Linked DNA regions of Homo sapiens: region 2 is linked to region 1. Evidence: fine-mapped QTL for protein levels in blood plasma. Region 1 holds a variant in brackets. A gene starts in the other region. All regions are shown on one strand. Distances are from middle to middle. Region 1 overlaps CBARP (CACN subunit beta associated regulatory protein). Region 2 holds the start of CEACAM19 (CEA cell adhesion molecule 19).

Evidence for each region. PIP is the chance, under the fine-mapping model, that this variant and not a neighbour inherited with it causes the effect. The UK Biobank Pharma Proteomics Project read protein levels with antibody pairs (Olink). The fine-mapping took linkage between variants from a reference panel, not from the people measured, so its PIPs are less certain.
Region 2: it holds the start of CEACAM19, and the variant in region 1 is fine-mapped to the plasma level of the CEACAM19 protein (UK Biobank, PIP above 0.99).

What each region holds. Positions count from the first base shown.
Region 1 is chr19:1,234,808-1,237,706 of GRCh38, reverse strand. It overlaps CBARP (CACN subunit beta associated regulatory protein), which reads left to right. Exons shown (of 10, transcript NM_001393918.1): 2 at 1,586-1,711; 3 at 1,789-1,928; 4 at 2,142-2,206; 5 at 2,562-2,706. The coding sequence starts at 1,607. Among named protein-coding and RNA genes, the nearest start is that of CBARP-DT, 1.7 kb to the left of the region's middle. The variant C/T (reference allele first, on the strand shown) is at 1,310.
Region 2 is chr19:44,670,040-44,672,938 of GRCh38, reverse strand. CEACAM19 (CEA cell adhesion molecule 19) reads right to left here and starts at 1,457. Exons shown (of 8, transcript NM_001127893.3): 1 at 953-1,457; 2 at 1-343. The coding sequence starts at 1,007.

The DNA.
Region 1 (2,899 bases):
GGGATCGCAGCCGGCTGTGGGCTAAGCGGCCGGAGGGAGGGCGCGGAGGAGTCCGGCGGGCGTGGGGACCGAGATCCGGGCCTTGCGCCCCCCACCCGGCTGCCTCCAGAGGGACCCCCGCTCAGGCCCCGCCCCAGCCTCAGTTTCTCCCTGTGAGGTCGGGCGAGGACGATGGCGTCTCGGCTCAGCCCTGGCGTCGGGTCCCTGCCTCCCCTGGCTCGCCATCCCCACCCTTGGCCGGCTCGGGGGCGCGGTGCTGCCCCGTGGGGAACCTCCGCCCTCGGCTCCCGCAGCCGCCTCCCCCAGGAGCCCCCCTCTTCCCCTCGGCCTCCTGCCATCTTCCCCGGCCTCCGGTCACCATCCTGCGCCTGTCCCCACCCCCTCCAGCCTGAACTCATTTCCCGACCTACATATGCGGCCCCTTCCCCCAGTACCAGGGCCCGGGCAGCCTGTGACCGGGAGCGCTGAGGACACCAGCCCCCGCCGGGACCCTGCCCGGCTTTGGGCCTCAGTTTCCCGCTGTCGCGTGTGGGCGGAAGTCCGGGAAGGGCAGGAGCGGCTGCCGCCTGTGCGCTCCTCTCGCTCCGGGAAAGGTCTCGCGCGTGCGGTGCTGACCTGGGGCCGCCGAGCACCCCGGCGCCAGCCCCGACCCCCTGCGATTCCCGGGCCTCCCCACCCGGCTGCGCCGCACAGCGTCCAGGCGGCTCCTTTCCCTGGTGCCGCGCCCCGCCTCAGTTTCCCCCGAGCGTAAGGCGGCCGGGGATGCTCCGGGCGCCCGGGCTGGGCACGGCGGGGAGGCGGCCGCGGCCATCTTGCGGCTTCGCGCCCGCCCCCCCGAGGCCGCCGCCCCCCCCCAGGCCGCCGCCCCCGCGCCCCCTCCCCGCCGCTCCCTGGCAACCCGCCCCCCCAGCCGCGGCCTGCTCCGCAGTCGCCATGGGAACCAGCTTCTCCGGGGCTGGGAACAGATGCGCCTTCTTTGTCCCTTGCACTCCCACCAGCACTCAGCACCGGGGAGACCTCCACCTCCCGGAGTCGTGACCCGGGAGCACGCGCCCAGCCCCTGCACCCTCCCTGGCGCGCAGGCAGCGGGAGGTCTCCCTCTACCCAACCATGGCCGGGTGGGCCCTGCCAGGGTGTAGCTGAACTTCTTGGGGTGGGGGTAGCCCCCCACCCCCGTGATGGGGCGGACAGGGCGTCTGGAGTCCTTCTCGAGCCGGCTGCACCGCCTTGGCGTCCCCATTCCTCCGAGTGCTTGCCCTGCCCAGCGCTGAGCTCCAGGGCCTGGCGCTACCTTGCAGGACAGGCCGCA[C/T]CGGCTGTGTGCAGTTGTGATGGGTACAGGCGCACCCTCAGAGGGCCAGGCCTCCTCCCCCGCCATGGGGATGGGAGATGGAGGTCCAGAGAGAGCCCCCGGGGCCCGCTGGGCAGAGCCAAGCCGGGTGGAGGCTGCCTCCGGCTCTGCTACCTCTCCATGAGTCACTGCCCCCTGTGTGGGCTCCTGCTCCTGCAGGGAAGACCCAGCTTGTCTGCAGTGGCTCCTGCAGGAGAAGTAGGTCTAGCTGGAGCTGACCAGGCTTCCTCCCCACAGGGCCCTCCTCCCCAGTTCAGAATGCAGCCCACAGCCACCATGGCCACAGCCGCCACCACCACCACCACCACCACTGCCACAGTAGCCCTGACGACGTCGTGGGACAATGCCACTGGACGCCCCACGGTGGGTGCAGGGGACAGGTGGGAGGGGCAGGAGGTCGTCCAGGCCAGCAGCACCTGACCCCCCCTGCACACCCGCAGGCAGAGCCAGACCCCATCCTGGACAACTACGTGCTGCTGGTGGTGGTGATGTCGCTGTTCGTGGGGGGCACGCTGGTGGTGTTGTCTGGCGTCCTGCTCCTCTGCAAGCGCTGCTGGGACGTCCACCAGCGCCTCAACAGGTGCGAGGCCCCCACCTCGGCTGGGCAGGTGCATGGTGGTTGTGGGTGCCATCGGGTGGTGGGGGGTCTACCTCACTGGCTTCTGAGTCACAGGGTGGGCTATGCCTCTGGAGACTGGGTGATGCGCAGGGCTTGGCTTGGGGCAAAGAGCCGAGACCCACTGTGGCTATCTGGGCCCTCCGTGCCACTGGGCTCTCCCAACGTCTCTCCCAGGGCCATGGAGGAAGCGGAGAAGACCACCACCACCTACCTGGACAACGGCACCCACCCAGCCCAAGGTGAGGTGCTGGCCAGCCTGGCTGTGCGCTCGCCTGTCCATCCGCCCCTCGGCCACCCGCCGCCCCCTCGGGCTGCCTGACCGTCTGTGTCTGTCTGTCTCCCCCACCAGACTGGGCGCAGCTCGATTCCGACTCATCTCTGTTTCCTTAACGCCCAGGCGTAGGTGGGCCCAGGCGCGTGCTGAGCGAGTGAGTGTGTGAGCGGATGGACGAGTGTCCCTCGCCCCGCCAGCCCGGCCGCCCGTGCCGCGGCCCCAGCCCTCCCTGCCGTGGCCGCCCGGAGGAGCAGCCCTCCCGGGACCAGGCGCCTGGCGTGGCCCGCCCGGGGCCCACCCTCTCCTGCCTCTCCACGCAGACCCCGACTTCCGGGGAGAGGACCCCGAGTGCCAGGATGCGGAGACCGAACGCTTCCTGTCCACCAGCTCCACGGGCCGCCGGGTCTCCTTCAATGAGGCGGCGCTGTTTGAGCAGAGCCGCAAGACGCAGGACAAGGGTCGCCGGTAAGCGGGGCGGCGTTGGGAGGCACCCCAGGGCCTGTCTGAGGTCCTGGCCGCCGGGACGGGGGAGGAGCTGGGTGCGGAGGCTGCAGGGACCAAGGCAGAGGCTCCTGGACTGGGACCGTGGGGTGGGGCGGCCTTGGCCAGTTGCCCCCCTTTCGCCTGCCCCTGCCCAGGCCGGCAGGGTGGATGGCAG
Region 2 (2,899 bases), 43 Mb before region 1:
TTCATAGTCCATTCAGAGTTGATGGTAATGGCTACTTGGTAGGTGCCACTGTCTGTAGGCTGGGCGCGGCGCAGCAGCATGGAACCATTGGGGAAGCCCACGATGTCTCGCTGTCCCATGGCACTGCCATCCCTCTGAGGCCGTTGTATCCCAGGGATGTAGGTAAATAGCCTCGTGCCTCCGTACGTCTCCTCCCCCAGGTACCAGTTGAAGTCCTGGAAGGTGTCTGGGACACCCTGGACTGACAGGAGAAGGTCCTGGTTCTTTTGAGGCTGCTCTGGAATCTTCTGGATGTAGAGAGCTGCCTGGGAGCCTTGGAGCATCCAGAGGACCAGGATTGAGGCTGTGGGAAGTTACAGGGAAGGGCTGAGATCAGGGGTGTTGCCAGGGACCATGGCATGCTCCTCTCTAGATACAGATCTTCAGCGGGGAGCAAGGACTCTGAGTGCTGCTCATTGGAAACAATGCTGGGATTGATTAGTGATGTCTGCCCTGGGTGCAGGAGTGGGAACACAGGCATGGTTACCACAGATTTGCCATCCTGTTGATCCAGAGGTTTTTCTACCTTGAGATGCTGTGTGGCCTGCTTCTAAACACATGGACTCTCTGAATTCATTCATTCATTCATTTATTCAACCAATACTTATAGGCATATGTAATATATAAGCTATAATACCAACTATATGTAATACATCTAAACTTCCTTCAATTTCTAGACACTGGAGATATAGCAGGGAACCAAACATACATAAATTCCTGCCTTCATGGTCCTAACATTATAGAAAATTCCATAGATAAAATGGCAATGAGGCTGTGATTCTGTTGCCCCTCCCCCATCTTATTCTAATTTCATCCTCTCAGGTAATCTTTCCCTACTTCTAAGAGGAAACTTCAATCTCTGGGCTGAGTCCCCATTTCTCCCCTTGGCCTTTAGGGTCTATTTCCTCCTTACCTGAGAGCAGGAGGCTCTTTGAGAAGCAGCCCTGGGTCCCCATGGGAATCTCCATCTTGGCGTCTTGTGGAAATGCCAAGGGGCCACGAGCTGGACACTAAGGGGGCCAGAGGGGTGGGCCCTGGCTGTCTGAAGTAGGCCAGCTCAGTGGGGATCCCAGGGGTGCCTTAGAGACACCGCTGGGGCTGGCCCAGCCCCAGCATGCCCTGTCCATGGGCTCTGGAGGCTCCACCTATACTCCCTGGGATGGGAGCACAGACAGAGGTTGAACCAGTTTTTCAGGGTGACTGGGGAACTTCCCAGGACTCCTCCCCTGACCCTCTTCAACCTCTTTTTCTCACTCAGCGTGACTACAACAGCAGTCACTGTAGCAATAGTCATAACAGCCTCTGTTTGAACAATTCCCCTGGGTTTGTTCAAACACACACTGCCTCATTCAGCAGCCACCATAAATAACTGTTCCCATTGCACAGATGTGGAAACAGAGGCCCAGGAAAAGAGGCAAGTCTGCCAATAGACAGAGGTGGGATTTCACCTGTGGCTGACTCACTTGAAGGCTCTGAGGCAGGCTGGGTGCGGTGGCTCACGCCTGTAATCCCAGCATTTTGGGAGGCCAAGGTGGGTAGATCACGAGGTGAGGAATTTGAGACCAGCCTGGCCAACATGGTGAAACCCTGTCTCTACTAAAAATACAAAAGTTAGTCAGGCGTGGTGGTGGGCACCTGTAATCCCAGCAACTGGAGAGGCTGAGGCAGGAGAATCACTTGAACTTGGGAGGCAGGGGTTGCAGGGAGCCGAGATCGCGCCACTGCATTCCAGCCTGGGTGACAGAGCGAGACTTCGTCTCAAAAAAAAAAAAAAGCTCTTAGCCTCGTGTTTTTCTTTTTTTTTCTTTTGAGATGGAGTTTCGCTCTTGTTGCCCAGGCTGGAGTGCAATGGCGCAATCTCAGTTCACCGCAACCTCTGCCACCTGGGTTCAAGCGATCCTCCCACCTCAGGGAGTAGCTGGAAATGCAGGCATGCGCCACCACGCCCGGCTACTTTTGTAGTTTTAGTAGAGACAGGGTTTCTCCATGTTGGTCAGGCTGGTCTTGAACTCCTGACCTCAGGTGATCTGCCCACCTTGGCCTCCCAAAGTGCTGGGATTACAGGTGTGAGCCACCGCGCTCAGCCTGTTTTTTTTTTTTTTTTTTTTTTTTTTTTTTCTTGAGACAGGGTCTTGCTCTGTCTTTCCATTCATGAACATTGGTTGTCTTACCATTTAAATATGTCACCTATAATTGCAAGAATATTTTGTAGTTTTTGGATTGGTTTCTTTTTTAGATGCTGTGTCACCCAGGCTGGAGTACAGTGGCACAATCTCAGTTTACTGCAACCTCCGCCTCCCAGGTTCAAGTGATTCTTCTGCCTCAGCCTTCTGAGTAGCTGGGATTACAGGCATGCGTCACCATGCCTGGCTAATTTTTGTATTTTTAGTAGAGATGGGGTTTTGCCATGTTGGCCAGGCTGGTCTCAAACTCCTGACCTCAGATGATCCTCCTGCCTCGGCCTCCCAAAGTACTAGGAGTATAGGCATGAGCCACTGCACCCAGCCCCAGAGTGTATGTTTTGTACTTTTTTGGATCATGTTTATTCCAAGTGTGTTATTCTTTTTTTTTTTTTTTAAGACAGGGTCTCGCTCTGTTGCCCAGGCTGGAGTATAGTTGCATGATCATTGCTCACTGCAGCCTCCAACTCCTGGGCTCAAGCAATCCTCCCGTCTCAGCCTCCTGAGTAGCTGGGACCACAGTTGTGTGCTACCATCCCTGGTCAATTTTTATATGTTTTGTAGAGATGGGATCTCACTATGTTGCCCCAGGCTGGTGTTGAACTCCTGGGCTCAAGTGATCCTCCCACCTTAGCCTCCCAAAGTACTGGGATTACAGATGTGACTCACCATACCTGGCT